Linked DNA regions of Homo sapiens. The protein of the gene in region 1 interacts with the protein of each later gene in a biochemical or structural test. Each region holds a gene or a part of one and is shown on either strand. Other genes may lie near its edges.

Region 1 (3,500 bases):
CCTCTCCCCCAATCCACCTCCAAACTTCCCTCTGCTTCTGCCAGATTTTTCTATTTCTTCCATTAAGTAATTAAGAAAATTCAGGTGAAAAGAAGGTAACTGTTTTCAGAATTACCTTGGAAAGTTATAAACCTATCTTCTAGAGTTTGTAGCAGCACTTTCAGAACAGATATGGTAACACATGAGGACAGTAACTATTAGAAGAAAACTCACTGATTAGAATTAGCTGTCAAATCAATGGAGATGAGGTAAATGAAATACATTTGAAGCCCTTGAAGTGTGTCTAAGAAAGTGCTTAAATTAATGGATTCTGACTTTTCTAAGGGTCCAATTTTTCACAGCAAAGCACCAAAATTGTCTCCAAAGGCCCTCTGAGCTTCTTACAAAACAAGAACTACCTGGAACAGATTCTTCTTAAGTCATCAAAGTTTGTGTTTCTAGAGTTTATATTTAGCTGACAATATTGCTGTCACTTTATGTAGCTTAAGACTGTTCTTTGGACTAGAGCTCATATGTCTTGGAATGCTTTGACTCATGAATTGTTTCTCCTGATAATGTTACATCACGTAACTACCTCTGTCTAATTGGTTAGTATCTGCTGGAAGAGACAGGCAGCCAGCCTAATGACTGGCCTGCTGACTGACTGCCTATGGAAAACCTATAATTATTAAGTGTCCCTGAGTATCTGGTTTCTTCCTGGGATCAAAACAACTTGACTTCATGTAACCTCTATCTATACTTTTTGCTTGATATAAATAATATGGTCTTCTCACAGTTTATCTACCAATAACTTTTTGGAATTTTTGCTTTGGAAAGCCAGGCCCAGATTTTATAAATAAATTCAGTGACTTAACAATAAGAGTAAAACCTAACAATGGCTACTATAAATATACACTAACTTAGAGGATTTTAATCTAGCACAATGACTTTATAGCTCAACGAAAGACCTCTGTGTGGCTGGAGTGAAAGAAAGCTGTCTAAAATAATAGCAGAATGAATTTATTTATGTAAGTTCACTTTGAATTTCCTCTTCATATAAAATGAGAACTACAATTTTTTAAGTGAATAAACAGACATCTCTCTGTCAGCGTGAAACTGGCCCATTAATATGGAAGCCCAAGTACAGGATATCTTATCCAATTATATTAATAAAAATCATAAACCAGAACAATAACTTCTCAGAGACAAAGTGTAGGAAATTGTCACTGTATACTTTTCCATCCTTAACTCGAATTTCCCTCTTCAATATTTCCAGAAAAAAAGAGAAAAATGAATATTGATACTTTAGATTGTTTCAAAATATGAAAATTCACACAAACACTGAACAAATTTATATAAAGAAACTAATCTCTGAGGTCCTCCTTTAGCTAAATAAGGCAATCTACCAAGTCCACTCTTTCATGTGATGAAATAAGGTATAAGTTTCAGGTTCCTATTCAAAGACAGACAAGAAGAAGAGAAAGAAGAGGGAGGGAGGAAGGGAGTGAGAGTAGAAAGGGAGGGGAAGAGGAGGGGAAAAGGGGAGAAGGTAAAAGGGGAGGAGAAAAACAACCATGGCTTTGCAGTTCATTTTCAGTTTGTCTACTTAATGAAAACCTCATTGTACAAGCCTGAAAATCATTTCCAGCAGGCAAAGTACTTCTGATTCAGCAGAGGTTACACAAGCATCAAAGCAGTTAAATATAGGTGCCAAGCTGCATTGCCAGGAGCTCTTAGTACTGTGAGTTAGTGTTACCTGACAGCTTAGTGAATATAAAATTACTTGTTTCTCCAATTGAAGACAATCAAATTGTCACCTTCCATTGTAATAATGCACAACTAGTGATCAGCAAAGTGCAAACATAATTACCATGAAGAAAACAAAATATCAAATCTAAATTTTTCAACAGAGGAAACACATCTATCTTCTTCCCCAAAAAAGGAGTGCATTTTAATCCTGAAGGCTATGATGCAATCTTCATGTTATTTAATAATAAGATTTATTCATCTTAAATTAAATAAAAATGAAAAACAACAAGAAATACTAATTCATAAAAAGTGACTACAAATATTAATAAGAGCACTACAACTTTCCAGACATTTCCAAGCACAAAGACCTACAAATTATATCACTGCCATTTGAACCTATATCATTAAAGGGTATGTCAGCGCATTTTCCATTATAAAAACTTTGTTTTTAGAGATGTCTTTCTAGCCTAGCAACCTTCCTGAAGGTTGAAAAGGACAGGCAGGATTCAACTTCAAAAGCTTTTGTCTTAATTTTTCTTTAACAGAGAGTTACGCTTCGTTTTCGTCTTCTAAAGTAGCTTATATTTTTGATGCTGAAAATTCATCTCATGAAAGTGATTTAATATCTCTACACAAGTTTAGAAAAATAACCAAGCATAGGACACATATCCACAACTGTTTTTCAGACACTCAGCATCTAGAATTCTCATCCAAATTTGGTGACCATATTGGCTCACTACCAAAGTGATCTCAGTAACCTGAAGCTAAATTAATATTAAAGGACTGAAAATTTGACATGGTTCTCCCGCACTCCAAAGATTCCTAAGATACAAATTAAAATGAATATAATTAATATAGATAATGCTCCAAACAAACTGCATTTTAAAAGCTCTCTTAGAAAAGTGATTTTATTTCATAACTAACTCAAGATTTAAGACATTCAAATTTATATCATTCCTTCTAATACAGCAAAAACTCTAATCATTCTCCAAATACTCTAAATATAGGGGCTTTTTCCATCAATAATGTCATTTTTATCAGAAAATATGTCCTACAGCTAGGCCTGCTGAGGTGGCTCATGCCTGTAATCCCAGCACTTTGGGAAGCTAAGGCAGGTGGATCACTTGAGGTCAGGAGTTTGAGACCAGCCTGGCCAACAAGGTGAAACCTGTCTCTACTAAAAATATGAAAATTAGCCACCCATGGCGGTGCGCGCCTGTAATCCCAGCTCTGCAGGAAGTTGAGGCAGGAGAATTGCTTGAACCTGGGAGGTGGAGGTTGCAGTGAGCCAAGAGCGTGCCATTGCACTCTAGCCTGGGTGACAGAGCAAGGCTCTGTCAAAAAAATAAATAAATAAATAAGAAGAGGAAAGAAAACAGAAGAAAGAGAGGGAGGGAGGGAGGAAGGAAGGAAGGAAGGAAGGAAGGAAGGAAGGAAGGAAGAAGGAAGGAAGGAAGGAAGGAAGGAAGGAAGGAAGGAAGGAAGGGAAGGAAGGGAAAGCAAGCAAGAAAGAAAATATTTCCTACAGCTAATGCCTGATATGCCTGACATTCCATTTTTACCATATGCCTGATATGCCATTTTACCAATATTTCCTACAGCTAATGCCTGATATTCCCATTTTAACCATTTCATTTTTGAAATATTTCCTATAGCTAATGCCTGATATGCCTAATATTCCATTCCAATTTTAGAACAGATACTTCTGTTCTAAATAACATCATTTATGATCATTTAACACAAAAATAGACCAGTTTAGCAAAAAAGGGGGA
Region 2 (3,500 bases), on another chromosome or scaffold:
GCCGAGGCGGGCGAATCACCTGAGGTCGGGAGTTTGAGACCAGCCTGACCAACATGGTGAAACCCCGTCTGTACTAAAAATAGAAAAAATTAGCCGGGCATGGTGGTGCATGCCTGTAATCCCAGTTACTTGGGAGGCTGAGGTAGGACAATTGCTTGAACCAGGGAGGTGGAGGCTGCAGTGAGCGGAGATCGCGCCATTGCACTCCAGCCTGGGCAACAAGAGCGAAACTCCATCTCAAAAAAAAGAAAGAAAGAAAGAAAGAAAGAAAGACACCCCAGAGAGGACCCTTCTGAAGACAGAAAAGCAAGAGGATAAAATCTTCCTAGAAAACGACGCCATGGGAATGGAGACCCTACAGAAAGGAGACGAGTCTCCTGCAGAACCAGAAGATCCCATGGAGATGGGAACCTGGTTAAAAAAAAAAGTAACCTCAAGAAGGACCCCAATGAGAAGGGATCCGGCATCTCAGGACCTTCTAGAGGGGAAGAGGACAAACAGGGTCCCTACAGACGAGGGATTCTATGACAGATCCCAGGAAGAGGCGCCCTGTTGATCAGAGTCACTACTGAGTCCATCCTGCAGCTCGGGGACCCCACAGAGATGTGGCATTCACGGCCGGAGGGCAGGAGAGTCAGGCAGGGGACAGTCTCTGCCCTCCTTCGCCGCAGCGGAACCAAAGAGATCCGAGAACGCGAACCCGGACCGTACTTCCAGCCAAGCGCAGCTCGGGACGACTACAATTCCCAGGAGGCCCCGCGGCTCCAGGCCGGCTTCCTGCCCCGCGGCGCCCGCGCAGTGGCTGCCGGAAGACGTAGTTCCCGCCACGGTGACTCAGACCGGAAGGCCGGCTCCGCCCCCGCCACCAGCCCTACCTCCTTCCATGTCCTCCGTCCAGTTGCGGCTGCTACTCGTGGGCGAGCTGGGCGAAGTGTAGTAATCGCCGCCAGGGCTCGTGTCCACGTCTTCCTCCATCGAGCCCGATTTGTGCCGCTTGCTCCTTATGGGCGAGGGAAGGGGAGAGGCTGGTTACCAGGGAGACGCGGGGCGGGGGGCGCGACGGCGGGCTTTGCTACTTCCGGTCCTTAAGTGAGCGGGGGCGAGGGAGGTAGTATCGCGAGACATCGCGGGAGCCGCGGGCGTTCAGCCCGTTCCCTACGAACGCCTGTTCCAACCTGTCCATTGCTTGGATGGGACACCCGGGCCAGAGGCAGGGAGGGTCTCAACACAGGTCGGACACCAAGCTAGCATGGTGGAGACCAAAACCCAGGCAGCCTGGCTAATCTCCTGGCCACCTGTAGTCCTCAGAACTGCCTGTTAGGGGTATGATCCCATTTTATGGATGGGGAAACTGGGGCACACACAGTGTGACCTGCTCGAGGTCACAAAGCATATCTCAGCAACAACCTGTGTCTGCATTCTTCTGGGTGGGGAGGGTCCTAAGGGCTGGCTGAGCCGGCAGGACTTGAGGCTGGGGGAGCCCACGGTGGGCTGTCAGGGCTAGGGGAAGAGGCACGTGGGGCTGGCTGGGTTTTGAAGGATGAGATGAGTAGGAGTTTCTCAGGCCAGGTGAATCGTGAAAAGAGGTATTCCAGGGAGAGGAATGAGTCAGCTCGGGCCAGAGGGGATGGGTTGATGAATGGGGTCATGAAATGCCCAGAGGTGGGGACCTGGGTACTTACCCACTGGAGGAGGTGCTGGGCAGCGTTCTTCTGAGGCCAGTGCTGGCTGGGTTCAGGTCGTATGCCAGGTGCCCCTGCAGCTCCCCCAGGGAGAAGTTGGGTCCTGTTCCAGTCACCACGGGTGCTGCAGAGGGTGACAGAGGAGAGTGAGGCAGGAAGCAGTGCCCAGTGCTGCGGTTTGCTTTAGAGAGGTAGGGAAAGCCACTGGGTGCAGTCCAAAGGGGGACCCCCTTCCCATATTGGCCCGGTTCCTAGGGTGGCTGAAACCAGTTTTATTCTATGGATCAGAGGACCAAGGCCATGGGGAGAGGCCAAGAGCACACTGTGAGGCAGAGGTGTAGCCAAAGCTGGAGGCCAGGCTCTGCTGATCTGGACAGGGAAGGTGTCAGTCAGGGCTAAAGAAGGACAGCGCCCAGGACTCGCTGGGGTGGGATTCAGACAGTGTGTGACGGAATGTGCTGGGTCCCCAGCAGGTCAGCAGAGAAAGCAAGGGGACAGGAGGGGCGGGGTCCTTTGGGGTCTCCTGGGACAGGACAGTGGAGGCCCCAGGGAGGAGGAGGGATGCTGGGGCAGAAGTTTCCTTAGTTGCCATCCAGCATTTAGATTCTGTTTCCTGGAGAGGTGGGAGGGAGCCCTGACCTTGGGCTCTGGGAAGGGCCTGGCCACCTCCCTTTCTAGGAACCTTGGCTTAGTGACACAGGGGGTTGTCTGGAAAGGACAAGGAGTAGGGTGAGGGGGGTGGGCTCCTTCCTCCCTGCGGCCCCCTCCCCTCTCCAAGACCCAGCTCAGGGCTGACGGGAACACTCACTCCGGGACACTTGGATGAGCTCAGTGACGCTGAACACGCCGGAGGTGACAAAGCTCTCCTGGAAGTCGGTCGTGTCTGGAACAGGAAGACAGCGGGGTCAGTAGGCTGAGCTGGGCCTGTTTCCCTTCCCCACACTCCAGGGCTGCCTGGACTCCTGGGGGCTGGCCCGAGCCTGGACGTTCCCCCTGTCCATCCTGTGCTGTGGGGGAATGACAGCTCCAGTCTGATGGGGAAGGCCCCGTGGGGGGTCCTTGTCCAGTGTGGGCCTTCACACAGCCTTCATCCGGGTTCCCCCATGCTGTGGAATGCTGCATTCAAGTGAACAGCAGGCCGGGCGCAGTGGCTCATGCCTGTAATCCCAGCACTGTGGGAGGCCGAGGCAGGAGGAACGCTTGAGCTCAGGACTTCAAGACCAGCCTGGGGAACACAGCGAGACCCCATCTCTACAAAAAGTGTTAAAATTAGCCAGGTGTTGTGGTCCGTGCCTGTAGTCCCAGCTACTCAGGAGGCTGAGGCTGGAGGATCACTTGAGCCTGGGAGGTGGAGGCCGCAATGAACCATTGTTGTGCCACTGCACTCCAGCCTGGGAAACAGGGCGACACCCTCTCTTAAAAAACGAGTGGAGCCGGGTGCGGTGGCTCACGTCTGTAATCCCAGCACTTTGGGAGGCCGAGGCGGGAGGATCACAGGTCAGGAGATGGAGACCATCCTGGCTAACACAGTGAAACCCTGTCTCCTAAAAATACAAAAATTAGCCGGGCGTGGTGGCAGGCGCCTGTAGTCCCAGCTACCTGGGAGGCTGAGGCAGGAGAATGGTGTGAACCCGAGAGGTGGAGCTTGCAGTGAGCCGAGATTGCGCCACTGCACTCCATCCAGCCTGGGCAACAGAGCAAGACTCCATCTCAAAAAAAAAAAAAAAAAAGAGCGGAAAGCGGAGGCCTGGGCTCACATCGGCTCCATCACCTGCCTCGGTGTGTGATCTGGGGCAGGTCACTTTCCCTCTCTCAGCC
Region 3 (3,500 bases), on another chromosome or scaffold:
TAGTAAGTGAATAAGATTTAAGCTCCAGCAAAACTGGATTTTAACTCTGGCTTTTTCACTTATGAGTCAAGTGACATAGAAATAGTCTCAACTCTTCTGAAGATCAGTTTCTTAATCTGTAATACAGGGACTGATAGTAATAATGCCTGCCCTACTTGTGTCATTATCTATTAAGGACAATCAGTGAAAGCACTTTACAAATCCTAAAGTCACACACATTTAAATTATTTTTATCATTGGCCTCCACACTTCTCTTATACCATTAACCAAATGCTGAAATGTCAGAGAAATTACTGTCACTTGGTTGACTTTCTCCAAAGGAACTACATTACCCAAGAGATTCAGTCTGAGGGCAGGCTACGGATTTTTTTTTTTTTTTTTTTAATGACTGGTATTTTGAAAAACAAGTCCAGCAAACAGGCTGCTTCTCTCTTGTTTGATGTGGTCAGAATTCCTTCTTGGTCATGTGACCCCCTAACATTTCTTGATGCTTATTTTAAAAACACAAACAAACCTGTTTGGTTTTTGCTTTCTTTCTTTTTCAAATTAACCTTGGACACTATGGAGTTGACCGGAAGGGCAGGGTGGGAGATAGCATCTTACCTGGGTGCTGGTGGGAGAGCTATCGTCTGAAAAGCTCTGGGAAGTGAAAGATGGAAGAAGGAAAGTTGAGTTACTCAGACATCTGGTGCATCCTAACCCTAAAGCACCTCTCGGGGTTCCTGATGCTCTCAAGCACGCCTGGGTTCAGAATAAGAGGGGCCAGTCCTTTCTTCATAATAACTTTAAAAATTATTTTGAGGCTGGGCACAGTGGCTCACACCTGTAATCCCAGCACTTTGGGAGGCTGAGGTGGGCACATAACCTGAGGTCAGGAGTTCAAGACCAGCCTGGTCAACATAGTGAAATCCCGTCTCTACTAAAAATACAAAAATCAGCCAGGCGTGGTGGTAGGTGCCTGTGGTTCCATCCACTCGGGAGGCTGAGGCAGGAGAATTGCTTGAACCCACAAGGCGGAGGTTGCAGTGAGCAGAGATCATGCCACTGCACTCCAGCCTGGGCAACAGAGCTGGACTCCACCTCAAAAAAAGAAAAAAATTATTTTGAAACTATAAGTAGTAAACTAATGTATCATGGAAAAAGTGTAGGTGTGTTTAAAACTGATCGCGCCCTTATAATTACAATTAGAGTTAATGGGAAAACATTGGAAACATTTCTGATAACATCAGAAGCAAAATAAGCACATCTATTACAGCTGTTATTGTTTAATACTGTAAGTTCTAAGCAATATAATAGGACATGTAGACATATCAGTACTAGCAAGGAAAAGACCCTGTTACCATCAGATGCTTGTATTACAATTACATACTTGGAAAAAAATCAATGAGGAAAAGACACTAGTAGGATTCAGTGAAGTGGTCATGTACAAAGTAAATACACCAAAATCAGTAGCTTTCTCATACTAATCTGTCATTAAAATATAATGGTGATTACAATATAGGATCCTTGACCAAAAAAGAAAAAAAATTTTGTAATGTGTACTGGAGATGTGGAAAAAGTAGAGAAACCTTGTAATGGCTAATCTCCCCCAACCCTTAGTAATTTCTGAAGCTGGCTAGTAACTCAGACAGTCAACAATAGATGCACCATGAGGGCAGGGATCACTGTCTGTTTTACTTACTGCTCTATCCCCAGCACCTAGAATAGTGTCTGTCCCACAGTAGACACTTAATAATTGTGTTTTTTTCTTTTTTTGTAGAGATGATTTCACCATGTTGCCCAGGCTGGTCTTGAACTCCTGAGCTCAGGCAGTCCTCCTGTCTTGGCTTCCCAAAGTGCTGGGATTACAGGGGTGAAGCACCATGCCCAGCCAATAATTGTTATTGAGTGAATGAAGGAATGAATTTGAGAACTAGTCATGCCAAGGAATCGCTAAGTCACATCGTGTTGGAAACTGCTCTTTGTGGTCCAAGTCCACCCATGTTTCTCTTGTTTTTTTCTCTCCATCAGATCTCAGTCTCAGGAGGAGGTTTGCCCCCAGTCAGCACCTTGACGAATATCCACAGCCTCTCCCACCATAATCCCCAGCAATCTCAAAACCTCATCATGACACCCCTCTCTGGAGTCATGGCAATTGCACAAAGTAAGTTCTATTCTTGGTTGGAAAACTTGGGGGCAGGGAGAAGAAGAATGGGAAGCAAATTAATGTGGTGAAAAATAACTGTAGGTCTCCTTCAAACTCACCCACGACTAGTAGATTTGGTTTAACTTCTTTAGTTTCTCATCTGTCTCCTTAAATCCAATATTTGGATTGTTTAGCCTAAAACAAGAGAAAATTGTGGAATGGATTTGGATCCTGGTCACAGTTTAGCAGCTGTGCATCCTGGGTCAAATCATTGAACCTTCAGGAGATTCAATGTCCTCATCTATAAAATAGGTTGTTAAAGTGATCAACTGACAGTGAATATGAACATGCTTATAAATCTCTAAAGCATGAATATGTATAACATCGTAGCTTACACTTTGTCTTGAGTTCATTCCTATCACTAAGTAGGTGGTAGATTTTTCAGGAGGTTCTTTCTGTTTGGTGATGATGAAGTAAGAATGACAGGTTTCCTTCTAAATGGGGAGTTTTGTGTGGTATATGAAATCTCCTTGGCCAGCAGTGAAAATACACCAAGGGAGGATCCAGAGGGAAACTGCCATTGTATCTGAGAGCTTTGAAAACTTTAAGGAGAAAAAGCTTGCTTTGGCACATCACACGCCTGAAGACACGGAGATGGATCAGGTCCCTCCAGCTCCAGGAGGCTCATATTCAACAGCAAGCCTGTGCCCTCCCATACATGGGCCATCTTGAGGCATGAGAAGGCTGAAGGGAACTGTGGTTGTGGATATCTCTTTGAGAGTTTTAATGTTGATGAGTATTCAGCATATTTCCAGCTTCACTATGACAGCTCAGGTGTCGTTGTTTCTCAAAACCATCCTTGTGACCCTTGGATGTATTGCTGGATGTCTTGGGAGAGATCTAAGGGTAACACATTGGTCATCTTTCTTTCAACCTTGTATTGCTCCATTGTCCTCTTACCTTCCTTGTATCTAGGGCTCATGTTGGCCACCTCTTTGTTTTGTTTCTGCCTTTTTCTTTCTTCCCTCTTCTCTCCCTAAATCAGCTTTAGCTAGGGTCGGAACTTGGATTCTCACTTCTGAAGAGAATGACTTACACATCCTTTGAGGTCAGAACAGGGCTAAGCCCATTGGAGGCACACAAATTTATTGAATATGTGTGGCTCTCACTCTATCCTTAGCTGCTTGGAAATTGACACACAGTGCATTGATTTTGGCAGAAGGAAAATGGGAATGGGGAAGCATTTAGAGAACTCACAATATAAATGATCATTTTAAATGTATTGCCTTTTGACTGGGCCCTCTGGTATATGGAATATGGTAATTATACTAATACCAGAGTTTGGAATGAGATAAGATACCTAAAACCAGCTTGT

Evidence for each region.
Region 2: the proteins of SOX6 (region 1) and NFIC form a complex in vitro, tested with the Homo sapiens proteins (one study listed by BioGRID).
Region 3: the proteins of SOX6 (region 1) and HNF1B form a complex in vitro, tested with the Homo sapiens proteins (one study listed by BioGRID).

What each region holds. Positions count from the first base shown.
Region 1 is NC_000011.10:16,346,547-16,350,046, forward strand, and holds part of SOX6 (transcription factor SOX-6), read right to left. Parts: intron 1-3,500. UniProt on the Homo sapiens protein: Transcription factor that plays a key role in several developmental processes, including neurogenesis, chondrocytes differentiation and cartilage formation.
Region 2 is NC_000019.10:3,432,583-3,436,082, reverse strand, and holds part of NFIC (nuclear factor 1 C-type), read right to left. Parts: intron 2,566-3,500; coding exon 2,491-2,565; intron 1,807-2,490; coding exon 1,683-1,806; intron 1,001-1,682; coding exon 876-1,000; intron 1-875.
Region 3 is NC_000017.11:37,703,560-37,707,059, reverse strand, and holds part of HNF1B (hepatocyte nuclear factor 1-beta), read left to right. Parts: exon of another isoform or gene 1-2,010; coding exon 2,011-2,143; exon of another isoform or gene 2,144-2,320; intron 2,321-3,500. UniProt on the Homo sapiens protein: Transcription factor that binds to the inverted palindrome 5'-GTTAATNATTAAC-3'. Binds to the FPC element in the cAMP regulatory unit of the PLAU gene. Transcriptional activity is increased by coactivator PCBD1.